4 linked regions of the Homo sapiens genome follow. The protein of the gene in region 1 binds, or shares a complex with, the protein of each later gene. Each region holds a gene or a part of one and is shown in the gene's direction. Other genes may lie near its edges.

Region 1 (7,415 bases):
ACTTTAATCCCCTGATAGATTTGACTTGCTAATATTTTAAGATTTTTATATCTTTATTCATAGTTGAGACAGATTTATAGTTTTTCTTACCATCCTTGTCAGGTTATGACGTTAGATTGTTGGATGAATTGGGACTGTTTCCGTCTTTTTCAATGCTCTCAAACCACGTTAGTACAAAAATTATTTTATTTTTTATTTTTTAAGACAGAGTCTTGCTCTTTTGTCCAGGCTGGAGAGCAGCGGCACAATCACAGCTTACTGCAGCCTTGACCTCCTGGGCTCAAGGGTTTCTCCCAAAACAGCCTCCTGAGTAGCTGGGACTACAAGTGCACACTACCATGCCTGGCTAATTTTTCTATTTTTTGTAGAGATGGGGTTTCACTATGTTGCCCAGCCTGGTTTTGAACTCTGGGCTCAAGCGATTCTTCCACCTCAGCCTCCCAAAGGGATTAGAGGTGTGAGTTTAAAACAAAGAAAAGATCGCCACTGCACTCCAGCCTGGGCAACAGAGCAAGACTCCGTCTCAAAAAAAAACAAAAACAAAACAAACAAAAAACAAAAGATCATCTTCTGAAATCTAAGCGTGATGATGACTTTATTAGTCCATTCTCATGCTGCTATGAAGAACTGCCCGAGACTGGGTAATTTATAAAGGAAAGAGGTTTAATTGATTCACAGTTCCACATGGCTGGGGAGGCCTCAGGAAACTTACAATCATGGTGGAAGGGGAAGCAAACACTTCCTTCTTCATAGGCAGCAGGAAAGAGAAGGAGTGCAGAGCAAAGGGGGAAGCCCCTAATAAAACCATCAGATCTCCTGAGAACTATCACGAGAAGAGCATGGAGGGGAGGGGAACTGCCCCCGTGATTCAATTACCTTCCACCGGGTCCCTCCCACGATGTAGGGATTATGGGATTACAATTCAAGATAACATTTGGGCCGGGCACAGTGGCTGATGCCTGTAATTCCAGCACTTTGGGAGGCTAAGGCAGGCACATCACCTGGCCAACATGGTGAAACCCTGTCTCTACTAAAAATACAAAAAAAATTCGCCAGGCACATGGTGTGTACCTGTCATCTCAGCTACTCCGGAGGCCGAGGCAAGAGAATCGCTTGAACCCATGAGGTGGCGGTTGCAGTGAGCTGAGATCATGCCACTGCACTCCAGCCTGGGAGACAGAGTGCGACTCCGTCTCAAAAAAAAAGAAAAAGATGAGATTTGGGTGGGGACACAAAGCCAAACCATATTGATGATGAAATGAGCATTTCTCAAGTCTTCTTCAATGATAAAGGAGTAGCTTCAGGAAGAAGGGACTGTGAGCAAATTATTTTTTAAGCTGCCTTACCTAAGATAATGATGATTATGGGAACTGTTAAGTTTAAAAGACTGTCCACATTCATCAGATTGAGTCAGTATAACTGAGAAGATATCTGAGTCCAGGACACCTTCCCAATGTACTTATACAAAAATATCTCTGACATGGGCAAAGACAACAAATTAGGCTTTGTAAATGCTATGATTTGAATGTCTCCTGCGAAACTCATGTCGAAACTTAATTCCCAATGTGGCAGTATTGAGAGGTAAGGCCTTTAAGAGGTGACTGGATCATGAGGGGTCTGTCCTCATGAATGAATTAATCCATTCATGGATTAATGAGCAGGACTGGTGGCTTTATAAGAACAAGAGACCTGAGTCAGCATGTTAACACACTTGCCCCTCTGGCCTTGGGATGCCCTATGCCACAACAAGAAAGCCCTTACCAGCTACGGCCCCTCAATCTTGGACTTCTCAGCTTCCATAACTCTAAGAAATAAATTTCTTTCCTAATAAATTACCCAGTTTCAGATATTCTATTATAAGCAACAGAAAATGGACTAATACAGTAAGGGTACATACAAATCTTTAAAAAAAAAAAGCTGAATTATACCTAGTGGCAAAAGTGAGAGAGACCTTCCCCTTCCACTCCCTTTTTCTTAAAGCATTCCCTCGTGCAAACTTGTAATTAAAAATCCTTTATTGGCCAGGTGAGGAGGCTCAATCCTGTAATTCCAGCACTTCGGGATGCTGAGGCAGGAGCACTGCTTAAGCCAAGTTCAAATCAGCCTGGGCAACATGGTGAAAACTCATCTCCTAAAAAATTGGAAAAATTAGCCAGGTGTCGGTGTGCACCTGTAGTCCTAGTTACTTAGTGGGGTGAGGTGGGAGGAGCCCAGGGAAGTGGAGGCTGCAGCTGTGATTGCGCCGCTGCAGCTGTGATTGCGCCACTGCACCGAGCCTGGGTGACAGAGGGAGTCCCTGTCTGAAAACAAAACAAAACTCCTTTTTCTGCTTCTTTGATACAAATGTAAATCTTTTTGTTTGTTTTTTGTTTTTTGAGACAGAATCTTGCTCTGTCGCACAAGCTGGAGTGCAATGGTGCAATCTTGGCACACTGCAACCTCTGCCTCCTGGGTTCAAGTGATTCTCCTGCCTCAGCCTCCTGAGTAGCTGGGATTACAGGCACCCACCGCCAAGCCCGGCTAATTTTTGTATTTTTAGTAGAGATGGGGCTTCCCCATGTTGGTCAAGCTGGTCTTGAACTCCTGACCACATGATCCGCCTGCCTTGGCCTCCCAGAGTGCTGGGATTACAGGTGTGAGCCACCACACCCAGCCTGTAAATCTTTTTAAAAGTGAAATAAGCATTTGGCCAGTTTTACAGCCCAAGAAAGACTTTCTTAAAAGCTTTGGAGCCTACTGTTCGAAAGCGTACTCTTTGAAACCTACTCTTCCAGGAAGATAGATCCCCAATCTCCCCAACTCTGTGAGTTTTTAGCCTGGGCACCTGGTTCCACATCATAAAGATATTTTTATTTTTCCTCTGGATAAAGGCAATTAGATAACAACCACCCCAATTACCAGTAAATTCAGGATAAACTACATGTAGCAAATGGTACTGTCAAGTCCTCTTACCTAAGGACAAATTATTTTTTATCTTGAGAACACGTATGTAATATGAAATCGGTTCTATCTGTCCAGCTACATTTAAAGGAATTAGAATTCTTCCTGCTATCCCATTAGCAAATTGCCCGTGATGTGTGAGGCAATTTAGTTTGTGCTTATTCAACAATGAAGCTGTTTAGCTCTCTTCTACAATTGTGGACAGGAGTTTCTTGGATGGCAGATATGATATTTTAAATTATTTCCCTAACAGCTTCCATGATGTGAAACATGCCTTTGGAGGGTTTTAATGTACCGATCAACTTTTGGACAGAAACCGAATCATGCATTTGTCCGCTGGGAGGGTGTGTCTCGCGCAGACAACTGTTCCCATTTCCAAAACACACACCAGGCTGCGAGGTCTTGGACCACTGTGACTCCCAGGTACCTCCCGTCTGAGGCCGGGCCGAGCGCCCGCACAACTGACCCTCTGACGTCCCTTCTTCCAGGGCACCTGCAAGCAGAGATTGACCTATGGCTCTGGGCCCCTCAACAGCCCTTCCACAATCGGGAGAATCCCTTTAGTTACACAAAGGCCCGGAGCAAGCTTTAAAATGAGAGGCCATCAACAGGTTTTTAAGAAATCTAATCCTCCGCTGTGACGCGGAGCTCAGGCAGGAAAGCCAGGGCAAGTTTTCATACCAGTATAGTCAGCAAAGGGGCGGCGGGGGCGGCGCAGCACCCTGCACTCACACAAGTACTGCCTCTCCCTCTAGCTCGGCTCCTCATTTTACCCCGAGCACACGCAAGCCACCACCCCGGCCTGGGGAGCCCCCCTGCCCAGTCCCCGCCCACCTGCCGGAAACCCCGGGGTCCCACCTGCGGACTTCGAAGAGCGTATCCCGAGCTCGCGGTCGCCCCGCCGCCGACCCCGGGTCAGCCTGTAAATGCAGTAGCAGGCGCCCGCGCCGAGCAGCAGGCCCGCCGCCACCCAGCCCGCGCCCCGGGGGCCACCCATGCTGCCGCCGCGGCAGAGCCGCAGCGCCGGGCCAGGGCAGGAGGCTCGCGGGGGCCAGCGCGGAGGTCTCCAGCGCACGCGGGCCTAGCCGCCACAGCAAACGCCACCTGACCTGGATGTGGAGAAAGGAAATGGGGTCTGAGCTCCGCCTCCCGGAAACGGCCTAGCTCAAAGCCTATAACCGCCCACTCCAGCCCGGCGCGTCCCGGCGGCTTCTCCCAGGCGAGGCGGGGCGGTGCGGGGCGCTGCACACCGGGAGGGGGGGGTCGGACGGTGCGCCCCACGCGGAGACGCCGGGGCCCGCAACCCAGAGCCGAGCTTCCCGTCTCTTCCCCCGGGGCGTGAAGCAACCATTCCTCCCTCCCGCCCCTGGCAGCGGAGCGCGGGGCGGTGCCACGCCCAGCCCCGCCCCCTGGTTGCCGGGACAACGCCCGCACGCGCCCGGCCCCTAGTCCCAGCGCGGGGAGGGTACTATCGCAGCTTCTCCGTCAGGCCTTGGGCCATGGCCTCGCTACGCAATGCCAACCCGAGGCTGAAGAACTACTTCAAGGAGAACTACATTCCTCAGGTCTGCGAGGTACTGGACACGCGTGGCAGCGGACACAGACCGTCGGTGGGGAGTTAGAAGGGGGAGGAGTCAGGAAAGACTTCCCGGAGGAGGGACTAGGTTTCGGGATTGGGGAGGAGTGGAGGGAAGGCGGGGCAGAATGCGAGAAAGTGAAGTCAAATTCGGACTTGTAGGCGATCAGGGCTGAAGACGCTGATTAGAGAGAAAACAGAGGGTGATGGTGGCTGCACGTGGGGAATGGGTGACATCTCCCAGGGGGAATGAGCACAAGGCCCAGATCGGAAACCCCAAACTCAGATTTTAAGGTTTGGACAAGAAGTACCTGAGGAGTGGAGGAGTGAGAAAGAAGTGCCAGAGAGCCTGAGGAGGAAAATCAGCAGACTGGCATTATGAAGAATGTTGTCAGAAGTAGGGAGTAGGCACTAGTCACCTAAGATAAGGAGCTGGATTCTGCCCAAGGTGAGCCTGAGGTTTCCATGGAGCCGTGAGGGCAGAAAATAGATGGAGGTTAGCGGAGGGAAGAGTGGAAGCTGAGACCTTTGGTCAGTGTAGTCAGCCCTTTGTGAAGGTAAGGACCCTCTCAACCAGGATTGCCTTTAGACAACAGGAAGGACTGCCCTCCTACTGCCGTTATAAGAGTAGGGAAGGAAGACAGGAAGGGGATAGACATTAGGTTTTGTAGGTTTGGGGGTAGGAAGCTGAGAACATTTGCCTTTGTTGACCTCTTTTTTTCTCTACAAATAGTTGGTGAGATATTTACCAAGAATGTGCGTGTTTGAGTGGGGATGGGGATGTTGGTGCAGTAGGAGGTTCGAGCAAAGATACGTTATGTGGAGAATGAGGGAGAGAGATGTCTAGGGAAAGAAAGAGGAGGTCCTACCTGAGGGTAGTAACGCTCCTAGGCGGTTGGGAGGGCAATTTGGTAGAGACCCCCCACCCGTCTCTTTTTTGGATGGTAATTGAGAAATATTTATTAAGATGTTAAATACATGTACCCTTTAACCAAGCATTTCTACTTCTAGGGATCTACTTTAGAGAAATACTTGCACATGTGTTCAGGAGGATGTACAAGGATATTCATTATAACTTTGTTTCATAGTAAAAATAGTAAATGACCTAGAGTGACTAAGCGAATGAGGCATTATGTAGAATAAAGTATATCTGTACCTACTAAGAAGAAATGTCCTCCAAGACATATTATTATTATCATCATTATTATTGAGACACGGGGTGTTGGTCTGCCACCCAGGCTAGGGTGTAGTGGCTCCATCCTAGCTCACTGCAGCCTCAAACTCCTGGGCTCAATTGATCCTCCCACCTCATCCTCCCAAGTAGCTAGGACTACAGGCATACACCACATGGCTGGCTCCCAACACATATTATTAAGTAAAAAAGAAAAAGTGCAAGTTGCTTAGCAACTGTCCATTCTGCTCTAGCTGTCCATTTGATTTCATATATGTTGTATATGTGTTTATGTACATATATGTGTATATATCTAGCTTTAAGACAATAGTGCATGCATAGAACCTATGCCAAACTGTTAATAACAGATGTCTTGTGGAATGGTTTTGGGGGAAAAGATGGAGAATTCTAACTTTTTACTCTGTCCATAGCTGTATTGTTTTAATTTATTACAGTGAGTTTTGTGTTGTACCTCTATACAATTGTGCTTGAAAATATGTAGGGAGAATGGTACCCATCTTCCCGGTTGTGTGATTTTCTCAAGTAGCAGTCAGTAAATCAGATGTAGGTACAGAGATAACCAAGTTGACTTCGTCTGGGATAGGAATTTGCCAGGCATATATTAATAGAATGGAAAGGCAGTAGGTTAGGGAGCTAAGCTCCTGAGTATCTGAAGTGATGGGCCAAGGACTCTAAGGACTCAGTGGGAAATGAGAAAAGGATATCATACTGATACATGGACAGAAAGTGAAGACTCCTCTAAGAGGTGAGTGAAGAGAAGTAGAGGGAGTAATTAAGTGAGGGAGCTGGAAACACAGGAGGTGGGGGTCAGAAAGTGGAACGTTTATATTTACAATTCAGGGTGCAGCCATTCTGAGTGATGGCTCAGTCTGTGATATGGCGGTGGAGCAGGTGGCAGAAATGGACTTGAGTTGAGAGTCAGGGTACATCAAGGAAGGGATGGCCTCTTCTCATCTAGGCCGCCAGTTACTATAACATCACAAAGCTGCAATGAGGCAGTCCCCAGTTCCCCCTCTGGGTGAAAGCATTCCTTCCTTACCAGCTTACTGCATTGTTCTGCACCCATAGAGGAGGCCCTTATATGCATTCTCCATTGTCTAAGATCATGTTCTCCTGAGGAGTCCTTCACTCACCTCTGCTAGCACACTAGCAGGAAGTGCAAAGGAGCAATCCTCTGGGCCCCACACACCCACCTTAAACTCATTACCCATTTCTTCTAAGAGAATATCAAGATGAATTCCATTCTGCCTCATATCCTGTCTGTACATTTATTTATCTGACTCAATTTCCCAGATGGGTTTTATACTTTTTTTTTTTTTGAGACAGAGTCTAGCTCTGTCGCCCAGTCTAGAGTGCAGTGGTGCCATCTCAGCTCACTGCAACATCCGCCTCCTGGGTTCAAGCGATTCTCCTGCCTCAGCCTCCCAAATAGCTGGGACTACAGGCACCTGCCACCATGCTCAGCTAATTTTTGTATTTTTAGTCGAGACAGGGTTTCACCATGTTGGTCAGGCCGGTCTCGAACTCCTAACCTCAGGTGATCCACCCGCCTCAGCCTCCCAAAGTGCTGAGATTACAGGCATGACCCACCACAGCATGACCCACCATGTCTGGCAGGTTTTATACTTTTCTAAAACCCATCTTCTGCAAGCCTTGGAATACATAAATAACCTTTCATTAAAGTTTTCCCTGTATATTTAACCTCTT
Region 2 (7,886 bases), on another chromosome or scaffold:
AGAAGGCTCACTTGAGCCCAGGAGTTCAAGGCTACAGTGAGCTATGACTGCACCACTGCACTCTGGCTTGGGCAACAGAGTGAAATCCTGTCTCTTAAAAAATAAAAGAATTAGGCCGGGCACAGTGGCTGACACCTGTAATCCCAGCACTTTGGGAGGCCGAGGCGGGCGGATCCTGAGGTCAGGAGTTTGAGAGCAGCCTGGCCAACATGGTGAAAACCCATCTCTACCAAAAATTCAAAAAATTAGCTGGGCGGGGTGGCACGTGCCGGTAATCCCAGCTACTCAAGAAGCTGAGGCAGGAGAATCGCTTGAACCCGGAAGGCAGAGGTTGCAGTGAACCGAGATAGAGCCATCCAGCCTGGGTGACAGGGCGAGACTCTGTCTCAAAAAAATAAAATAAAGATAAATAAATAAATAAAAACAGAATAAAAGCATTATTACAGTATAATAGCATTAAAATACGGAGGGAGGGAACCCTGCAAGAACAAATACTGAAAAGTTAAGGGTAATTCTGTCTGGAGAGTGACATTAGGGCCAATATGTCCTACCTCCACTTCTCTTTACATTTATTTGTAAGTTTTGTAAAGACTTCAAAGAAAAAAATAGGCTGGGCACAGTGGCTCCCACCTGTAATCTCAGCGCTTTGGGAGGTCAAGGTGGGAGAACTGCTTGAGCCTAGCAGTTCAAGACCAGCCTGGGCAATGTAGCAAGACTCCATCTCTACAAAATAAAAAATTTTAAATTAGCTGGGTATGATGGCATATGCCTGTAGGCCTAGCTGCTTGGGAGGCTGAGGTGACGGAAACACTTGATCCCAGGAGTTGGAGGTTATAGTGAGCTATGATCACACCACTGCAGTCCAGCCTGGACAACAGAGTGAGACCCTGTCTCTAAAAAATAAAGTAAAATAAAAGGCTGGGCACGGTGGCTTACAACTGTAATCCCAGCACTTTGGGAGGCAGAGACGGGTGGATCACTTGAGCTCAGGAGTTCAAGACCAGCCTGGCCAAAATGAAGAAACCCCGCCTCTATTAAAGATACAAAAATTAGCTGGGTGTGGTGGCTTGCGCCTGTAATCCCAGCTACTCTGTAGGCTGAGGCAGGAGAATCACTTGAACCCAGGAGGCAGAGGTTGCAGTGAGCCGAGATGGTGCACTGCACTGCAGCCTGGGCGACAGAGCCAGATTCCACCTCAAATAAATAAATAAATTAATTTAATTAAATTAAATGACAAAAAAATACAACCATTAAAATAATAGTTAATATGCGGCCAGGCGCGGTGGCTCATGCCTGTAATCCCAGCACTTTGGGAGGCCGAGGCGGGCGGATCACGAGGTCAGGAGATCAAGACCATCCTGGCTAACATGGTGAAACCCCGTCTCTACTAAAAATACAAAAAATTAGCCGGGCGTGGTGGCAGACGCCTGTAGTCCCAGCTGCTCAGGAGGTTGAGGCAGGAGAAAGGCGTGAACCCGGGAGGCGGAGCTTGCAGTGAGCCGAGATTGCACCACTGCACTCCAGCCTGGGCGACAGAGCGAGACTCGTCTCAAAATAGTAATAATAATAATAGTTAATACTCAATGAGTGCGTACTATGTATGAGGGACCCTACTAGCACTTCATAAGTAAAAGTTAACTGAAAATTCTTAATAGCCCCATGAGATAGGCAGGCTTATTATCCCCCCATTACAGGATGGGTGTGGTGGGTATTTCAGGCACAGACAGATTACGTATCCTGCCCAAGGACCCACAGCTAAATAAAAGCCAAGCTTTCAGCTCTACGGTGTGACTCCAAACCTGTATTCCCAGCCATTACACTATAATTCCTCAAAGTCTGGGCCATGTATTTAGGCAGCACCTAGCTTCAATCATCAATATATACTTGCTCATATATACAGATTTAAAATACATCTTTCACTTCAGCTTTACCATGCAGCCTCTCAGAACAGTTAGAAACATACTTCCAAAATGTATGATTTTTATATCATTTTTATATAGGAGTTGTTCTCTTAGATTTAGGTGTCCGAGGAAGGGGAAAAGAGTATTTTTTTTTAACTGGTGAGTATTTTTTAATACAGTAAAAGTGCTCATCCTTAACTCCCAATTTAAAACACTCAGAGCAGCCGGGAGTGGTGGCTCATGCCTGTAATCCCAACATTTTGAGAGGCCGAGGCAGGTGGATCGCTTGAGGTCAGGAGTTTGAGACCAGCCTGGCCAACATGGCGAAACCTGGTCTCTACTAAAAATACAAAAATTAGCCAGGTGTGGTGGTGCATGCCTGTAATCCCAGCTACTGGGGAGCCTGAAGCAGGAGAATCACTTGAACCCAGGAGGCAGAGGTTGCAGTGAACTGAGATCACGCCACTACACTCCAGCCTGGGCGACAGAGCGAGACTCCATCTCAAAAAATAAATAAACTAAAAATTTAAAAATAACTAAATAAGTAAAACACTCCGAGCTAGCCTGTTACAGCTCCTATTTATGCACATTCCCGTTTCCGCTGAGAAGAACCAAAAAAAAAAAAAAAAAGACTCAGCAGATCTGACTGCAGACCTTTGAACTTGCAAACAGCAGCAGGTTCCTTCCTCAAGCTGTGGGCTCTGGGCTCAACCCACTTTGCCTCCCAACTGACCTAGTCAATGGCAGCTGAGCAACTGACTTCTTCCTCGAATCATTGGAACAACTCCAAGCAAATCCTTGTGCATCCACAGGGAACAGTACAACGTTTTGAAACAAGGCAGCGAAAGTAAACATCATTCTACTTGCTGCTAAGCCCGTAGCTCTCTGCCCAGCACACTTCCTGTGAGTTTTTTTTTCTTAAGTTTCCTCCAGATCTGGGGATTTATTTTGCTTTTAAATCTCAGCAGTGGAAAGGCAGAAGAGGAAATCCCAGATGAGACACTACTATTTGGCAGTCTTAAGAATTATGGTTGTATTGTCGTTTTGGTTTAACTTTTTACCACAGATATTTTCAAACATTCTCAAAAGTGCAGAGAATATATACGTGAACTTCCTTGTATCCATTACTCAGCTTTGACAATTATCTCCCATGTTTACTTTGAAGGCAGGAGAATTTATTAACTCACAGAGAAGAGGTTTCTTAATGTTACCATTATCATAATGGCTAGTGGTTTCTATGTTTTAACTCACGGCTGTCCAACCTTTTGGCTTCCCTGGGCCACGCTGGAAGAACTATCTTGGGCCACACATAAAATACACTACCATTAATGATGAGCTAAAAAAAAAGAGGCAGGGGGGTTGTTCATGCATAATTTTCATGATATCTGCCACCATAGATTAAAGTCCTCGCATTCAAATGCTTCAACACGGTTGTTTAACTGTTTAATATATGACTGCTTGCCTGCCTGTACTGCCTTTGCCCACTGGCTTTCAACTGGGGTGATTTTTGCCCCCATGGGGACATCGGCAATGTCTGGAGACATCTTGACTGTCACAACTTGGGAGTGGGGGGATTGCTGGTGGGTGGAGTCCAGGTATGCCACTGAACTTGCTTCAATGCACAGGTGAGACCTCCCGAAACAGAATTATGTGGCTCAAAATGTCAACTGAGCTGCTGTTGAAAAATCCTATCTTAGCTAATATCCCCACTTTAGGAATGAGGAAATTGAAGCTTGGAGTGGTTAACTTGCCTTTTATAAGTTTCAACCCAGGCAGTCTGAATCAGGGACCCTGCCTGCTTAACCATTACCCTATATACACCTACGACTAGAACCAGTCCCCTGATTTGAATTCAAACACGTCATTTTTCCAGACAGACAAAAATGAGGCCCAGAGAGGGGAAGAGACTTGCCCAAGGTCACACAGTGGAGGAGTAGGGCTAGAACCCGGGACTCCTGCGTCCTGGTCCAGTGTTCCCTCCGCGGGCTTTGCTTCTGCCTCTACAGAGGACCCAACTGGCCAGCGCTGGGGAAAGGGCCTAGGGGAAGAGGTTCAGCTACCATCCCGCTGTCCGCTGGGGCAGCCTGACCCAGGCACAAGACTCCTGTGGGGTCACCTAAGGGCGCCAGGGAGAAGAGCGAGGGAGGGAGGAAGAAGGAGGCAGGACAGCTGGCTCCAGCTCCACGTGCTCCCAGCCCCTGGCTGGGAGCCCACGTGAGGGTCGCCCTAAGAAGTCGGGGGCGAGGAGAGAGGGTGCAAAGCCCCGGCCCGGGCTGGACGGAGAGAAGCGCGGTGGAGACTTCCCTGCGCCCCCTCTGGGCCCGTACGGCCCACCTCCCACACCAGAGTGCTGCGCCGCAACCCCTTACTCCGCGTCCTCTGACCCCTGATCCCTGCCCTCTCCCTCGGGCCAAGCCGTCGCATCCCTCGGATTCTTACACGCGCCGCCCCAGCAACCCGGACCGCGCGCCGGGGTCCGCACCGCGCAGCCTAGCCCGCCGGCGCCGCCGCCAAAACCCCGAGCCCGAAGCTGTTGCAGCCGCCGCAGCCGCCGAAGCCGCCGCCACTTCAGCCACTGCCACCAGGGCAGCTGCGCCAGCTCTCCTATCCACCGCCTACCGTCCTCTCAACCCCGCTGGCCCCGCCCCATTTCCCCTTCACAGCGTCCTACTGGCTAACTGGGCTACCGTGATGAACTCTGATTGGCCAACTATCACGTCCTTCCGCAGGTCTCGCCCGCCGCCGATGCGGTACTCCCTGCCCGCCTCCTTAAGAAGGGGCGGGACGAAGAATCCACGCCCCTTACTCCTCCCTTGTTCCCCGCCTTACTCGTTGAGTCCAACCCAGAGGGAGTCCCAAGTCTTTCCATTGGTGAAAGGTCAAAATGGCGGTGCTTCTGATTGGTCAGACTTCAGGAGGTGGGGACAACTGAGCGGAACAATAAATTGAATGGTGAAAAGAAAGGTCAGTCAGACACCGAGTCTCGCCTTCTGAGATTGGCGGGTAACCTAGCAACGCAGGGACCGCGGCGGTAACTGTGGCTAGGGAAACCTGGAGCGGTCAGAGCAGGTGAGTAGCCAGTTGGGAAAGGGTCGCGGATCGGGGGAGATGTGGAATAGGGTTCAGCCCTCTGTCCTTTGGCTCCCTGAGGAATTAGAAGCCCCCGCTGCGATCTCGTCTCAGCTTCAGGACCCTGTCCCTCAGCTCCTGCCTTAGTCTGGACCTTTCGCTCCACAACCTGCAGGGAGCCGGCCTCCATTCTGCCCTTCTACCTGCCCACTTCATGGCTCCACTCCCTCATCCCTAAAACGAGGAGGACAACAGTCAAGCAGAGTCATATCGTAGTTAACTTATTTCAAGTCAAACATGGGAGCTGTGGGTGGGAGGGGAGTTTATAAGTCCCCTCCCATTTCACCCAACGGCCATACGTTCCTCGGTGAGCAGGCAATCTCACTTCAGTGTTTAAATTAGGTAGTTTTGTTTGTTTGTTTTGTTGTTGTTGTTGTTGTTTTTGCCGAGCATGGTGGCTCACGCCTGTAATCCCAGCACTTTGGGAGGCCGAGGCGGGCAGATCACTTGAGGTCAGGAGTTCTAGGCCAGCCTAGCCAGTATGGTGAAACCCCATCTCTACTGAAAATACAAAAATTAGCTGAGCATGGAGGCGCACCTGTAATCCCAACTACTCGGGAGGCTAAGGCACGAGAATCACTTGAACCCGGGAGACTTAGGTTGCAGTAAGCCAAGATAGCGCCATTGCACTCCAGCCCGGGCAACAGAGCAAGACTCTGTCTCAAATAAATAAATAAATTAGGTAATTTTTATTACACCACTTTTGCCTTTATCCTAACTTTGGAATTTAACTCCCATCTCCATCCTTAAGATGTGATCTCATTGTACCTACTGAAGACAGAGAGTTTCTTGTGATGATTAAATGAGGCTAAGGGCCGGGCGCGGTGGCTCAGCCTGTAATCCCAGCACTTTGGGAGGCCGAGGCCAGCAGATCACCTGGGCCAGCAGATCACCTGAGGCCAGGAGTTTGCGACTAGCCTGGCCAACATGGTGAAACCCTGTCTCTACTAAAAATACAAAAATTAGCCGGGCCTGGTGGCGTGTGCCTGTGATCCCAGCTACTCAGGAGGCTGAGCGGGAGAATTTCTTGAACCCGGGTGGTGGAGGTTGCAGCGAGCCGAGATCGTGCCACTGCACTCCAGTCTGGGTGATAGAGCGAGACTCCAGCTCAAAAAATAAATAAATAAATAAATAAATAAATAAGGCTGAGGTGGGAGAATTGCTTGATCGCAAGAGGCGGAGGTTGCGGTGAGCCATGATTGCACTACTGCACTCCAGCCTGGGCGACAGAGCGAAAAACCCTGTCTCAAAAAAATATATAAAAAAAAAACTTTGAGGTTCAAAAGATATTTTCATAAGAAAATGAAAAGATCAGCCACAGACACAGACATGGAGGAAATATTTGCAAATCATGTGTCATAAAAGAGTTGTATATAGAATATAAAAATAACTCTTATAACTCAATAAGAGGACAACTCAATTTTTTTAATGGGCAAAAGAGTTGAGTAGACATTTAAAAATCAAAAAGACAATACCAAGTATCATCATGTAGATAAATAAACAAACTGTAGCTTTCATATGTTGCCGGTAGGTACAGCAGAATACCAATTGGTACCACCAATCTGAAATATAGTTGGCAGTTTCTTAAAAAGTTAAACATAGGCCAGGCACAGTGGCTCGTGCCTGTAATCCCAGCACTGTAGGAGGCACAGGCAGGTGGATCACCTGAGGTCAGGAGTTCGAGACCAGCCTGGCCAACATAGCAAAACCCCGTCTCTACTAAAAATACAAAAATTAGCAGGGCATGCTGGCGGGTCCCTGTAATCCCAGCCATTTGGGAGGCTGAGGCAGGAGAATCACCTGAACCCAGGAGGCGGAGGTTGCAGTGAGCCGAGATCGTGCCACTGCACTCCAGTCTATGTGACAGAGTGAGACCCTGTCTCAAAAATAAATAAATAAAACAAAAAATAAACTTACACATAACCTAGCAATTCCACTCTTAGGAAGTTACCCCTCCCAAGTGAAAACATAAGTCCACACAAAGACTTAAATATAAATGTTCTTAGCAACATCACCCTTAACAGCCCAAAACTGGAAACAACCCAAATGTCATCAACAGGTGAATAAATAAATAACTCATGATATTTCCTTAGAATGGAATACTATTCAGCAATAAAATACTATTCAGGAATGAAATACTAATAATTGCTACAACCTGGATGAACCTCAAAAACATGTTAAGTTGAGGGTTTTTGGCCCAGTGGCTCACGCCTGTAATCCCAGCAATTTGGGAGGCCAAGGCAGGAGGATCCTAGTTTGAGCCTAGGAGTTTGAGCCTAGGAGCCTGGTAACAAAGTGAGACCCTATCTCTACAAAAAATACAAAAATTAGCCAGGCATGGTGGTATGCACCTGTAGTCCCAACTATTCAGAAGGCTGAGGTGGGAGGATCACCTGAGCCTGGGGAGGTCAAGGCTACAGTAATCCATGGTTGCACTGCTGCACTCTAGCCTGCGTGACAGAGTAAGACCCTGTCTATTAAAAAAAAAAGGCAGCCGGGCACGGTGGCTCACGCCTGTAAATCCCAGCACTTTGGGAGGCCAAGGCAGGCAGATCACCTGAGGTAGGGAATTTGAGACCAGCCTGACCAACATGGAGAAACCCCGTCTCTACTAAAAATACAAAAAAAAAAAATTAGCTGCGCGTGGTGGCGCATGCCTGTAATCCCAGCTACTTGGGAGGCTGAGGCAGGAGAATCGCTTGAACCCAGGAGGCAGAGGTTGCAGTGAGCCGAGATCACGCCATGGCACTCCAGCCTGGGAAACGAGAGCAAAACTCCATCTCAAAAAAAAAAAAAAAAGGTCAGGGTTTTTCAACCTCAGCTCTATTGATGTTTTGGGTGAGAAAATTCTTTGTT
Region 3 (7,022 bases), on another chromosome or scaffold:
GTGCACAAGAGCTCATTGGGACATTTGATGAGGGACAGTTCAGGGCAGAGGATGCATATTTGCAGAAGCTGCATCCAAGTGGATGGTCAGGGAGGCAAGAGGAGGGCAGTCTTAGAGGGAAGTCTCTAAGACCAGGTAACAGGATTGTATGGCCCAACCTGGCTTTTCAGCAGACACCATCAGCCCTGCACCAGGAGTTTCTCCAGCAGTGCCCAGTGGAATGAAAAACAGAGCACAGGGGCTGCCTAGCATCAGGGACCAGCAGGGCAGAAGGACAGGAGGTTCAGGGAGGCCCAGATGCTGGGAAGGCATGTAGACAAAGATAGGAAGTAGGGCCAGCAGGGAGGCAAGAATCAGGGGTGGAAAGTGGGGGAAAATATCCCTCCTGGATGTCCTCACCAAGAGGGTTGATAAGGATGAGAATGTGGTCCAGCCACGAACGGCAGCCTGGAGTCAGCCTCACATTGTGACTGACCAAATCTACAGATCCCCCCTGTGCTGTGGTGTCTCAGTCAAATCCCTCTGGACCATTAGCAACAGAATCTACTGGAGGCTGGGCACGGTGGCTCATGCCTGTAATCCCAGCACTTTGGGAAGCGGAGGCAGGTGGATCACCTGAGGTCAGGAGTTTGAGACCAGCCTGGCCAACATGGTGAAACCCCGTTTCTACTAAAAATACAAAAAATTAGCCAGGCGTAGTGGTGGACACCTGAAATCCTAGTTACTCAGGAGGCTGAGGCAGGAGAATCGCTTGAATCCGGGCGTTGCAGTGAGCTGAGACCGCGCCATTGTGCCCCAGCCTGGGCGACAGAGCGAGACTCTGTCTCAAAAAAAATAAATTAATTAAATTAAAAAATAACCTACTGGAGCTAGCTTAAGTAGAAGAGGATTTCATGTGAGAAACAGGAAACTCTCATGAGGCCTGGACCTAGGGACATTAGGGACTGGAAAGCCAGCAAGAAGGAGGCAGCCTCTGTCTGTGTCGATCTGTCTGTCCTTTGTCTTTTGTTTTCTGATTCCCAGGTTCCCATCTCTGCTTTTCTCTGTGCATCTGCCTCCTCCCCCTCTTGCTCTCTGCTTAACTATGTACCCAGCCAGCCCACACTCCCTATTCCTCCCCAGCTCAAGCAGCCAGCTCCGATGGGCACTCTCATTCCACAGCCTCAACTTCACATCTCCCACGGGGAGGACGTGAATGGGCAGCTTGGGTCAGGGGCTCCCTCTGCACCAGGAGAAGCTTGTGGTGTGGTGTGGGGCATACACACATGACGGCCTGGAGGGGGTGAGGTGCTCAAGGAAGAGGAGCTGCAGGCTGACAGGCCTGGCTGGGGCTGCCCAGGGAGCACAGTCAGTGGTTGGTACCCACAAGCCCAAGTGAGGATGGGCATACAAAGTCAGAGGCCTGACACAGGGCCACAGTCATAAGATGAGTCAAGATCACAGGCTAGGGAGACCAGTGTGGACACCAGTCCAGTGGGTCCAGCGAGGGTCCCAGCTGTGGCTGTAGGGTCAAGGGATGAAACCCTGTGGACAGGCCCAGGTGGTTGCCAGGAAGCCCTGGAGCAGCCTTGGCGTAAGTATACAAACCCCGAGATGCAGCAGACCCAGGGCTGGGCGTGGGGCATTCCTCAGAGTGCCAGTGGCCACAAGACACTACAGGGGGAAACCTCAGCCAGACCCTGCCCTCAAACAGAGAAAGAAGCAGGCCGTGAAGGAAGAATGCGGTGTTTTTTAGGGAAAACGTGGGGGAAGATGAACCAGCCGTGCAACTCGATGGAGCCGAGGGTGATGGACGATGACATGCTCAAGCTGGCCGTCGGGGACCAGGGCCCCCAGGAGGAGGCCGGGCAGCTGGCCAAGCAGGAGGGCATCCTCTTCAAGGATGTCCTGTCCCTGCAGCTGGACTTTCGGAGTATGTATCCAAGGTTCAGGGGTGGTGGCCAGGGTGGGCCCTCCCTGGCTTTCTCTGCTCCATCTTCAAGCCCCAGGATTCCATGCAAAGTCCACGGTCGAGGTTCCCACATCAGCATTAGGGCCTACCTGGGTTACAAGGCATAGGAGCAGCACAGATGTTTGTAAAGCGTCATACTTAGTGTCTTCATCATTTGAATATCCACGACGCTCCGGATTCTGAATAAGAATAGAAAACAAGATAAAATTGTCCCACGCCAAATCTAAGTGAGCCCCCAAGACTATGCTGTTTCCATCACACAACTCCACATGGGTGTCCTTGGAGTGGGGGTCCCTGGCAGGCAGAGCCTAGGAAGTCCCACGTAGCCAGAAGCAGAGGGTAGGAAGTGTGGGAGAATGAGAGCGGGCACTGGGATGGCAGCTTCAGGGAAGGGGTGACCAAAGACAGGCTGGTAGCAGGAGGAGCACAGGCCCTTGAGGCAGGGAGGCACATCAGGAGTGAGAAGATGTGGCTCAGGACCAGGCGGACCCTCACTGCTTCAATGTCCCGTCTGTGGAATGGGATGGCTGTCATCCCTGTCTCGAGCATTGGGTGGGGGGACAAGGTGAGACAGCACGTGCACAGTGCCTGGCTCACACAGCAAGCCAGGCACAGTAAGTGAAGGCAGAGGCAGTACGAGGGCAGTGAGAGAGGTGGGCAGGGATCCTGAGACCCCCCTTTGTATCATGTGCAGGCAAGGCCACAGCAGAGTGACCTGGTCTGATTCACATTCGTGCTCTGTCTTGGGGCCCCTAGGCTGGCCGGCATCCAGTCAACAACAAGGAGGTATTGAGACCCTGCCTCAGTCCAGCCCTGCTGCCAGAGCCAGGGACACGACAGTGGGCAAGTCAGGCATGGCCCAGGCACAGCCCCACGAAGCCCATAGGCTCCCAGGGCTGACCACCCAATCAGGGAGGGCCCTGAGCCACAGCCCCGGGAGGGGTAAAGGGGCACAGAACAGGTGCGGCAGGAGGGGGCTTTTGCAGCTGACCGCTTGCCCTCTGTTTCCCCTCCCCAACCTGAGGTTCATGCAGCCAGTATTGAACACCTGCCTGTTACATGCCAGGTACTGTTCTGAGCACTAGGGATTCAACTATGAGCAAAAAAAGACAAAAGCCTTGTCCTCATGGAGCTGACATTCAACTTGATGGGGGACAATTAAATAAAATGAAGAAGGAAAATAATACTATTTGCTAAACGTAATATGTGGTGTGGAGGAAAAAAGGAAGGAGAGGAGAAAAGGGAAGTTGGGGGTGGAGTACAGTGTTTTATAGAGTGGCCAGGGGCTTCACCAAGAAGGTAACAATTTAGCAACAACTTGAGGTAGGCAAGGGAGAGAGCTGCTGTGCAGATCCACCAGGGAAAGTGGAGCAGCCAGTGCAAAGGGCCTGGGGCAGGCTGGACCCCGCCTTATCATCTCTGCTGAGGAAGCCACTGTGGAGAGACAGGTCGGGGAGGTCATGGTGTCAGCTTGGAGACAGTGGAAGGTGTTTGGCTCTTACAGTGAGTGAAGTGGGGACCCCGGGAGGGTCCTGAGCAGAAGTGGGACAGGATGGGACTTAGGATTTCACAGGACCCTGCTGGCTGCGTGAGGATAGACCGTGGAGGCCAGGGGCCGAGGCAAGGATCTAGTAAGATGGCCACTGCTGTACTCCAGTGAGTGATGACCACAGGCCTGGCCGAGGTGGTGGCCACAGGGGCAGATTTAGTGTCTTTGTTGAAGATTAAATCGGCTTTTTTTGGCAGTCCTGTCATGCTGGTAACTCATTTAGAGCTAACTGCCAAGTACATCCTGATTTGTTGTGTTGTTTTGGCTTTTCCTCCTGAACTGCTGACACCTGGGAAAAAGCCGGCATGCTGGCGTGTGTGGCAGAGCACCCGGTGTGCAGGAGCCACAGGGGGAGTGCTACTGCTGGGGGGCTGTCAGATCAGGGCCAGAAAAGGCACCTGGAAAATCCAACCCAGGGTTGGGAGGTGGCCGGGAGGCTGGGGCAGAACTGGCCCCACCCTGGAAGCACAGGTGGGAATTGTGGCCAGTATCATTCTGGGAAATCTGGCCACAAACAGGGAGCTGAAGAACAGGCACCAGTCCCACCCAGCCCTGGGAACCCAGGAGAGGCACTACGCAGCAATCCGGCTCTAGGGGAAGGGCAGTCCCACCCAGCCCTGGGAACCCAGGATAGGTGCAAGGCAGCAATCCAGCTCTAAGGGAAGGGCAGTCCCACCCAGCCCTGGGAACCCAGGAGAGGTGCAGGGCAGCAATCCAGCTCTAGGGGAAGGGCGGTGTGCCCCTCTGGACCTGGGTCAGAGAACCCTGTCCTCCCCAGAACTTTGTGCAGGGAGGGGAGCTAGGAGGGGTTCCCCACTTTCCCACTGGGACTTTCACAACCTCACAGGCAGGCTCTGCCCCTCTGAATGAATATTGAAACGGCAGCTGGACTGTATGTTTTTTTTTTGTTTGTTTGTTTGTTTTGTTTTATTGTTGTTGTTTTTTTTTTTGTAGAGACGGAGTCTCGCTCTGCCGCCCAGCCCAGGCTGGAGTGCTAGAGTGCAGTAGTGCGATCTCAGCTCACTGCAACCTCTGCCTCCTGAGTTCAAGCAATTCTCCTGCCTCAGCCTCCCAAGTAGCTGGAACTACAGGCATATGCGGCCACGCCTGGCTAATTTTTTTTATTTTAGTAGAGATGGGGTTTCACCATGTTGCCCAGGCTGGTTTCGAACTCCTGAGCTCAGGCAATCTGCCTGCCTCAGGCTCCCAAAGTGCTAGGATTATAGGTATGAGCCACTGCGCCCAGCATTTTTTTTTTTTTTTTTTTGAGATGGAGTCTCACTCTGTCGCCAGGCTAGAGTGCAGTGGCACGATCTAGGCTCACTGCAACCTTCACCTCCCGGGTTCAAGTGATTCTCTTGCCTCAGCCTCCAGAGTAGCTGGGACTACAGGTGTACACCACCACACCCAGTGAATTTCTGTATTTTTAGTAGAGACGGGGTTTCACCATGTTGGCCAAGATGGTCTCGATCTCTTGACCTCGTGATCTGCCCACCTCGGCCTCCCAAAGTGCTGGGATTACACGTGTGAGCCACCGCACCTAGCCACTAATTTGTATTTGTATTTTTTATTTTTTTGGCATGAATCTCATTTATTGAAAACATTATATTTCACCTTTCTCAAATTGAAGACTGCAAAAAATAAAAGCAGTGCTTTACTGAGTTCTCATTAACCTCAGGAGCAGCAGCGCTGCCTCTCCACGCTCCAGGAAACCCTGGCTCCCGCGTGCCACATCTGTCGCACCTCACTTTACAAAACAGTCCTGAAGCTTAATCAAATAAAACTATTGTACATTAGAAAAAGAGAGCTGGGTGTAGAAAAGCCAGGTGTAAGTTCCCTTTAAGCAAAGGCTGCTCTGCAGTTGGGGCATCTTTGCTTCCTCCAGGAAAAACAGCAGATGAACCCAAAGGGGAACAGGATGATGGCCAGGAGGATTCCCAGGAAGGTGAAGCAGTCCTCCAGCACCCTATCCCTGCAGACGGGACAGCCTCTCATGATGGCGATGGCATTGGCAGGGTACCAAGTGATAGTCCAGCTGTGGTCATTGTAGACCCTGGGGTGGTGGTTGGGTATCCCTGTGATGAGGTAAGGGGAGGGCGGGCAGCAGCAAGGGATGGGCAGCAGGGATGACGCTGTAGCCATGCAAGCTGCATGCATAGTTGCCCTGGCCGGCCCCTAGGTTGTAGGTGGGCAGCCACTCCCACAGCAGGGGCGTGTGGTCCATGGCAGCCCGGCTCAGGTCAGTCGGTCCTGGCAGGGGACACAGTGGGGGACGTGGCAGGGATGCAGCAGACTGGCTGGCTCAGGCTCCTCTGAGGCACAATGCCTCAGCACCGATTTTTATTTTTTTTTATTTATTTATTTATTTAGAGACAGAGTCTTGCTTTGTCACCCAGGCTGCAGTGCAGTGGCATGATCTTGGCTCACTGCATCTCTGCCTCCTGGGTTCAAGTGATTCTGCTGCCTCAGCCTCCTGAGTAGCTGGGACTACAGGGACACCAGCTAATTTTTGTATTTTTATTATAGAGACAGTGTTTTTCCATGTTGGCCAGGCTGGTCTCAAACTCCTGGTCTCAAGCAATCCACCGGCCTTGGCCTCCCAAAGTGCTGGGATTACAGGTGTGTGCCACCATGCCCAGCCACAGGACCAAATTTTTTTTTTTTTTTAAACAGTCTCACTCTGTCATCCAGGCTGGAGTTCAGTGGCGTAATCTAGGCTCACTGCAACCTCTGCCTCCTGGGTTCAAGCGATTCTCCTGCCTCAGCCTCCAGAGTAGCTGGGATTACAAGCGCGTGTCACCACGCCCAACTAATTTTTGTATTTTTAGTAGAGACAGGGTTTCACCATGTTGGCCAGGATGGTCTCCATCTCTTTTTTTTTTTTTTTGAGATGGAGTCTCGCTCTGTCGCCCAGGCTGGAGTTCAGTGGCGCAATCTCGGCTCACTGAAAGCTCCGCCTCCTGGGTTCACGCCATTCTCCTGCCTCAGCCTCCCGAGTAGCTGGGACTACAGGTGCCCGCCACCACGCCCAGCTAATTTTTTGTGTTTTTAGGAGAGACAGGGTTTCACTGTGTTAGCCAGGATGGTCTCCACCTCCTCACCTCCTGATCTGCCTACCTTGGCCTCCCAAAGTGCTGGGATTACAGGCGTGAGCCACCACGCCTGGCCCACAGCACCAATTTTGAAAACTTCTTTCACTTCTGTATTATTTCAGTTCTTTTAATGAGCATATTCTTTTTTTTTTTTTTTTTGAGATGGAGTCTCGCTCTGTCACCTGGATTGCAGTGGCGCGATCTTGGCTCACTGCAACCTCTGCCTCCCTGGTTCAAGCGATTCTCCTGCCTCAGCCTCCCAAGTAGCTGGGACTACAGACGTGCACCACCACGCCCAGCCAATTTTTTGTATCTTTAGCAGAGACAGGGTTTCACCACATTGGCCAGGATGGTCTCGATCTCTTGAACTTGTGATCCGCCCGCCTCGGCCTCCCAAAGTGCTGTGATTACAGGCGTGAGCCACTGCGCC
Region 4 (7,022 bases), on another chromosome or scaffold:
GCTGGGCGTGGTGGCACGCCCTGTAGTCCCAGCTACTCAGGAGGCTGAGACAGGAGAATTGCTTGAACCGGGGAGGCGGAGGCTGCAGTGAGCCAAGATCACACCACTGCACTCCAGCCTGGCGACAGAGTAAGACTCCGTCTCAAAAAAAAAAAAAAACAAAAACAAAAAACAAAGTTCGAGAAGCACTCATGTGCTGTATCTCATTTATTGTTAACAGTTTTATGGATTAACTAATTGCAGTTTGTGAAGGGTATTATGAAATAAAGGCATTTTGTTAGAGGATAAACTAAGTAGAGACTCATTTTGGTGGTAAGATCTTTTTATGGAAATAGTCTATTACTATATTTGATTGTCAGCTACTGTATTTTGAATTTTCAGAAATTACGTCTAACCAATTAATCAGAATTGATTAAGTTTTGAGGATTCACTCAACTAAACTCATAAAAGACTGATGTGCAAACCTGAATGATTTATTAATTTAAATAAGGGTATATACATTGACTTGAAGGCTGATTTTGCCAATATACTAATATAATAATTTTGGCAATATACTAATATAATAATATACTGTTTTATGGGTACTAAGCTTCGGGTAGTGTGAATTTGTATTTCAGAAGTCATTTGATGACCGTGGAATCACACAAAAGAAAGGATAATTTTGAAGGATGTGTTCAGTACCCTCTAAGTTCCAAAAGATCTGGGACCATTTCTGATCTGTTAATACTGAGTGTTGTGCAGAGTGCTTGGAACGTGGTAGGTAATCAATAAATATTTGTTGAATTCAGAACATTTGAATTAATCAAAGACAGCTTATGAGATTTTAACCAAAGCATTCCTAGCTATTTTCCCCAAACTTATTCTATACCTAAAAGTACACAAAACTCGTTTTAGGTCTCTTTTCCCCTCTGCTTTACCGGTAAGATACATTCTTCTATTCCATCTGGCTCAACAAAACGTTTTATTTCACAGTGCCACGGTATTCACTAGCATGTCTTTAAAAAACAACTACAAAAAACCTCATTGTAGAAATACACATATGTTTTAAATAGTTCATCCTTAATATTGAGATTTCTAAAAGTTCTAAAGGGGGAATAAGTTTCAGGGTACCTATCCTATCCACTCTTCTTCAATATTTAGAGATTAACTTTGATAGAAGTATTGAGAATATTGATAAGAAAAATTACCTAAATTAGAAGGGGCTATTGTGCTCATAAAATTTTTTTCTAAGATTATGTACGTTGAAGTTGTTATACTTATTTGTAGCATTTTTTGCTTTCATACAGTATAATTTATTTTTTCATAGATTAAAAATTATACAGAATTATATTAGCTAAAAGTTTAACCTTTAGAACCAAATTATTTTTAAAACCACTTTTTTAACTGAAAGAAGAATGTTTGAAACGGGATGAGAAAAAATATTTTTGAAGGTTTATTATTTTTCCAAAGTTTCCTCAGCCAGAACATTTTTTGTTTTGTTCTTTCTTTTCCTTCTGTTTTGTCTGTTTAAATGGAGAGTCAATGCAATTGTTGATTCTTTGGCTCCTTAAATCTTATTGTTTCTGTCTCTTAGAGAATTTTATATAGGACTGGAAGGATCTTCTGTTTGTAATTAGACTCACGTCTAGGAAACAAACTGCTTAGTTATAAAATTTGAACTTTTGGCAGCCAGTGAGCTTTGGAAAGTAAGAACTTTTTAGTAAGCTGCAGATATTAAAAGCTCACTCTAGGATTTACTATTTTTGTTTCTATTAAAATATTCTTTGTTACTTTGCGTGCTTTGATAACATTGCTTGATAAAGTGCCTCTAATTCAATTATCACCTCCTAAATGGAAGAGGTTTTACAAGGTTTGTTGTTTTGTTTCTGATTTCCTTCATTGTGCCACTCTTTTGAAAACCCAACATTTGGAAATATAAAGTAAAAAACAGAAATTTCAGGTGCCTATTACTTTATAAAAAGGGTTCCCTTAAATAACGTCTTTGTTTTTTTTTTCTTCTTTTATTTTGAGACAGGGTCTTGCTCTGCTGCCCAGGCTGGAATGTGGTGGTGCAACCTCTGTTGCCTAAGCTGGAATGTAGTGGTGCCATCACGGCTCACTACAGCCTCGACCTCCTGGGCTCAAGCGATTCCCCCGACCTCAGCCTCCCAAGTAGCTGGGACTACAGGCGCAAGCCACCATGCCCGACTAATTTTTTTAATTTGTAGAGACAGGGTTTCACTGTGTTGGCTACGCTGGTCTCAAACTCTTTATTTTTTTTATTTTTATTTTTTTTTTGAGATGGAGTCTCGCTCTGTCGCCCAGGCTGGAGTGCAGTGGCACGATCTTGGCTCACTGCAAGCTCTGCCTCCCAGGTTCACACCATTCTCCTGCCTCAGCCTCCCGAGTAGCTGGGACTACAGGTGCCTGCCACCACGCCCGGCTAATTTTTTGTATTTTTAGTAGTGATGGGGTTTCACCGTATTAGCCAGGATGGTCTCGATCTCCTGACCTTGTGATCCGCCCACCTCGGCCTCCCAAAGTGCTGGGATTACAGGCGTGAGCCACCACGCCTGGCTCGAACTCTTGAGCTCAAGTGATCTGCCTGCCTTGGCCTCCCAAAGTGCTGAGATTACAGGCATGAGCCACCCTGCCTGGCCTCATAGTAACTGTCGATAGTATAGAGTGTAGCCTGTGGGACAGTACAAAGGTTGAGCTTTGAAGTAAGACTTGAATTTGAATTCCGTCTTCCCCAAGCTCTAATTATCTGATCTTAGCCGAGATGCTAAACATAAGTAGCTTCAAGTTCCTCAGATGTAAAGTGGGGATAATTATACCCCCAATATTTCATAATGTTGTAATGGGGACAATGTTTTCTTATTCATTTTTACATCCCCAGCACCTGCCACAGTGCCTGGCATCAAAGGAATGCTGAGGCCGGCTCACGCCTGTAATCCTAGCACTTTGAGAGGCCCAGGCAGGTGGATCACTTGAGGTCAGGAGTTCAAAACCAGCCTGGCCAACATGGTGAAACCCTGTCTCTACTAAAAATACAAAAAATTAGCTGAGTGTGGTGGCGCGTGCCTGTAATCCCAACTACTCAGGAGGCTGAGGCAGGAGAATCGCTTGAACCCAGGAGGTGGAGGTTGCAGTGAGCTGAGATCACACTACTGCACTCCAGCCTGAGTAACAGGGTGAGACTCTGTCTCAAAATAAATAAATAAATAAATAAAAAATACAATAAAGGAATGCTGAATAAATGGGAAAGAAAGTGTTTGGTACGTATCTAGTGAATTAGTAAGTATTAGTATCTGCTTAACATAAAACATAAGAGTTGGCCAGGCGTGGTGGCTCCTGCTTGTAATTCCAGCACTTTGGGAGGCCGAGGTGGGGAGATCACCTGAGGTCAGGAGTTCGAGACCAGCCTGACCAACATGGTGAAACGCTCTCTCTACGAAAAATACAAAAATTAGTTGGGTGTGGTGGTGGTTGCCTGTTATCCCAGCTACTCTAGAGGTTGAGGCAGGAGAATTGCTTGAACCTGGGGGATGGAGGTTGCAGTGAGCCTAGATCGCAGCATTGCACTCCAGCCCAGGCAACAGAGCAAGACTCCATCTCAAAACAAAAAAACAAATAAAACATAAGAGTTAAGAAAACTTTTAAGTCTTACCAATTGGGATCATGCATAATGCATTCCTGCATATTTCTGGGGTAATTTAATAAGTTTTCTTCCTGTTTTAGACCAATATAAATATCCGGTTAAGACTAAGCAAACAAGAAGACTAGCTTTTTGAAGCCTAATTTGTTTCCTCTTATTCAGAATAAAAAAAAATTTGAAGAAAAACTGGACTGAAATTTGTTTTTGCTCTGATATATAAAATTTACAGAAATGTCTCAAGAATAGTCATAATTTTAAAGATCAAATGGACAGTGAGATACTACCTCACGCCTGTTAGGAAGGCTATTATCACCAGAAGTCCCCCAAATAATAAGTATTGGTGAGGATGTGGAGAAACTGGAACCCTCGTGGACTGTTGGTGGCAATGAGAAATGGTGCAGCTACTATGGAAAGTGGTATGGCGGTTCCTCAGAAAGTTAAAAGTTGAGTTACCATGTGACCCAGCAGTTCCACGTGTGGGTATATATCCACAGTAATTGAAAGCAAGGCCTCGAAGAGATATTTGCACAACCATGTTCATAGCACATTGTTCACAGTAGGTAAAAGGTGGAAGCAAGCCAAGTGTCCATCAGCGGATGAATGAACAAACCAAATGTGGTATATACGTGTAGTGAAATATTATTCAGCCTTCAAAGGAGGAAATTCTGACACATGCTACCGCTTGAATGAACCTGAAAGACATCATGCTAAGTGAAATAAGCCAGTCAAAAAGACAAATACTCTGTGATTCCACTTACATGAGGTACCTAGAGAAGTCAAATTCATGGAGACAGAAAGTAGATTGCTGGTTGCCAGGGGCTGTGGGGAGAGGAGAATGGGAAGTTGTTTAAGGAGTGTAGAGTTCCAGTTCTGCAAGATGAAGGAAGTTCTGGAGATTGGTTGCCCAGCAGTGTGAAGGTACTTAACACTATTGAACTATATGGTTAAAAGTGGTTAATACAGTAAGTTTTACATTATGTGTATTTTACCACATTTTAGTAAATAGAAAATGTTGAGTACATTCAGAATGAAAGAAATGGTACATTGTTTTTCAAAGGCAATTTGGAAATTTGTATTGAAGAATAAATGATGATGGCTAGGCAAGGTGGCTCACATCTGTAAACTCAGCACTTTGGGAGGCTGAGGTAGGAGGATTACTTGAGACCAGGAGTTCGAGACCAGCCTGGGCAACATGCTGAGACCTCATCTTTGCTAAAAATAAAATAAATAATAATAAAGAAGTCGGGGGTTCCCTCTGTTGGCTTTGGAGCCCCCATCCCTCTGTCTCTGTACAGGGAAGCTTCTTCCTTCTCCTTTCTTGCTCCTTCTTGCCTGTTAAACTCTCTATTTCTTAAAACCAAAAAAATAAAAAATAATAATAAAAAGTGATGTCCACATGCTTTGAGCTTTAATATACTTCTGGATATTTATCCTTAGAAATATATTCTGAAAAGAATAAAAAATGCTCTAAGCACAAAAATGATCAACATAAAGTTATCTATAAATTTGAAAATATAGATAACATTTGCATGTCCAACTAATGGGGCATACAAAATAAATGGTTGTATGTCCACTTGTTGGGTTGCAGCCAAATATATAAAAATTATATGTGTAAATGGGTAAGGACACGTGGGGGAGCCCAGGAGATGATGATGATAGCAGGGTGATTAGACTTTTAGGGGCACTTATTTTTAAAATCTCATTTTAATGTCAGTTCTACAAAACTTTAAAAACCCACTTAAATATGCTAATTAAAAATTATTCTTACCCACTTGTGAAAGTGTGTTTACCAGATCCTGTACTTGACAATCCTTTGTAAACCTCTAGTATGGATTTTATAGATATTAAGACTGTAAAAAAGTAATTTTAGTTTTTATTTTTATTTTTTAAGAGATGAGATCTAGGCCGGGCGCAGTGGCTCACGCCTGTAATCTCAGCACTTTGGGAGGCTGAGGCTGGCGGATCGCCTGAGGTTGGAAATTCAAGACCAGCCTGGCCAACACGGGAAAACCCCGTCTCTATTAAAAATACAAAATTAGCTGGGCATGGTGGCGCATGCCTGTTATCCCAGCTACTCGGGAGGCTGAGGTAGGAGAATCACTTGAACCCGGGAGGCGGAGGTTGTGATGAGCTGAGAGCACCATTTTACTCCAGCCTAGGCAACAAGAGCGGAACTCCGTCTCAAAAAAAAAAAAAAAAGAGACGAGGTCTCACTCTGTCACCCTGGCTGGGGTGCAGTGGCTTGATCACAGCTCACTGTAGCCTCTACTTTCTGGGCTCAAGTGATCTTCCCACTTTGGCCTCCCAAGTAGCTGGGACTGCAGGGGCGTGCCACTGTGCCCAACTAACATTTTTATTTTTGGTAGAGATAAGATCTTGCTCTGTTGCCCAGGCTAGTCTCAAACTCCTGGCCTCAGGCAATCCTACCACCTTGGCCTCCCAAAGTGCTGGGATTACAGGCTTGAGCCACCACCTCTGGCCCATAATTTTATTTTTTTAAATGCACTAGTAAAATTGGGAGTTTAAAAACCTGGACTAGAATTTGGACATTGCCTTTTTTTTTATTCTTTTTAAGATTTTGCTTGTTAGTGTCAATTTATCTGACCTTTGGTTTGAAGAATTTCCATCTAAAGAGGAAGATAGGCAGCTAAGGAGACAATGATACAATAATGTGATAAGTGCTATGATAGTTGCACATGTATGATGATTGGGTGCCTGGGGAGAGTCACCTGATTCACACACACCCTCTTTAAATTATAGCCCCTTTTTATTCCCTCTCATAGCTATTTGTTTTTTTCCTCTTTCATACTATATTTTGTAATTGCCTGTAGATGTGTTGTTTGATGTCTGCTTCTCCTAGACTCTTAACTTCCAAAAGGATAGGGGTCATGCTCATGCATATACCCAGAGCATGGCATATAGCTCAGTATTTGCTGAATGTTGAATCAAAGTTGGCTTTCTGAAGGAGATAACCGAAGCTTATCTTTTTTTTTTTTTTTTTTTTTTTTTTTTTTGAGACGTAGTCTTGCTCTTGTCGCCCAGGTTGGAATGCAGTGGCGTGATCTCGGCTCACTGCAACCTCTGCCTCCTGGGTTCAAGCGATTCTTATGTCTCAGCCTCCCAAGTAGCTGGGATTACAGACATGTGCCACCATGCTGGGCTCATTTTTTTATATTTTTAGTAGACGGGGTTTCACCATACTGGCCAGTCTGGTCTCGAACTCCTGACCTCAAATGATCCGCCTGCCTTGGCCTCCCAAAGTACTAGGATTACAGGTGTGAGCCACTGCGCCTGGCCTAATTTTTGTATTTTTAGTAGAGACGGGGTTTCACCATGTTGGCCAGGCTGGTCTGGAACTCCTGACCTCATGTGATCCGCCCACCTT

The links.
Region 2: FBXL13 (region 1) and DRC10 share a complex: the UniProt entries of both Homo sapiens proteins name them as parts of the nexin-dynein regulatory complex.
Region 3: FBXL13 (region 1) and DRC3 share a complex: the UniProt entries of both Homo sapiens proteins name them as parts of the nexin-dynein regulatory complex.
Region 4: FBXL13 (region 1) and DRC8 share a complex: the UniProt entries of both Homo sapiens proteins name them as parts of the nexin-dynein regulatory complex.

What each region holds. Positions count from the first base shown.
Region 1 is NC_000007.14:103,071,795-103,079,209, reverse strand, and holds the start of FBXL13 (F-box and leucine-rich repeat protein 13), read left to right. Parts: upstream 1-4,413; 5' UTR 4,414-4,439; coding exon 4,440-4,514; intron 4,515-4,641; exon of another isoform or gene 4,642-4,964; intron 4,965-7,415. Other genes in the region: ARMC10 (armadillo repeat-containing protein 10), read right to left, coding at 3,215-3,433, 3,799-3,937. UniProt on the Homo sapiens protein: Substrate-recognition component of the SCF (SKP1-CUL1-F-box protein)-type E3 ubiquitin ligase complex.
Region 2 is NC_000012.12:113,218,081-113,225,966, reverse strand, and holds the start of DRC10 (dynein regulatory complex protein 10), read left to right. Parts: upstream 1-4,872; 5' UTR 4,873-4,970; intron 4,971-7,886. Other genes in the region: TPCN1 (two pore channel protein 1), read right to left, coding at 631-721. UniProt on the Homo sapiens protein: Component of the nexin-dynein regulatory complex (N-DRC), a key regulator of ciliary/flagellar motility which maintains the alignment and integrity of the distal axoneme and regulates microtubule sliding in motile axonemes.
Region 3 is NC_000017.11:17,975,847-17,982,868, forward strand, and holds part of DRC3 (dynein regulatory complex subunit 3), read left to right. Parts: intron 1-1,709; exon of another isoform or gene 1,710-1,735; 5' UTR 1,736-1,752; coding exon 1,753-1,912; exon of another isoform or gene 1,913-2,130; intron 2,131-5,142; exon of another isoform or gene 5,143-5,385; coding exon of another isoform or gene 5,386-5,445; exon of another isoform or gene 5,446-5,814; intron 5,815-7,022. UniProt on the Homo sapiens protein: Component of the nexin-dynein regulatory complex (N-DRC) a key regulator of ciliary/flagellar motility which maintains the alignment and integrity of the distal axoneme and regulates microtubule sliding in motile axonemes.
Region 4 is NC_000001.11:244,972,672-244,979,693, forward strand, and holds part of DRC8 (dynein regulatory complex protein 8), read left to right. Parts: exon of another isoform or gene 1-627; coding exon of another isoform or gene 628-756; intron 757-7,022. UniProt on the Homo sapiens protein: Component of the nexin-dynein regulatory complex (N-DRC), a key regulator of ciliary/flagellar motility which maintains the alignment and integrity of the distal axoneme and regulates microtubule sliding in motile axonemes.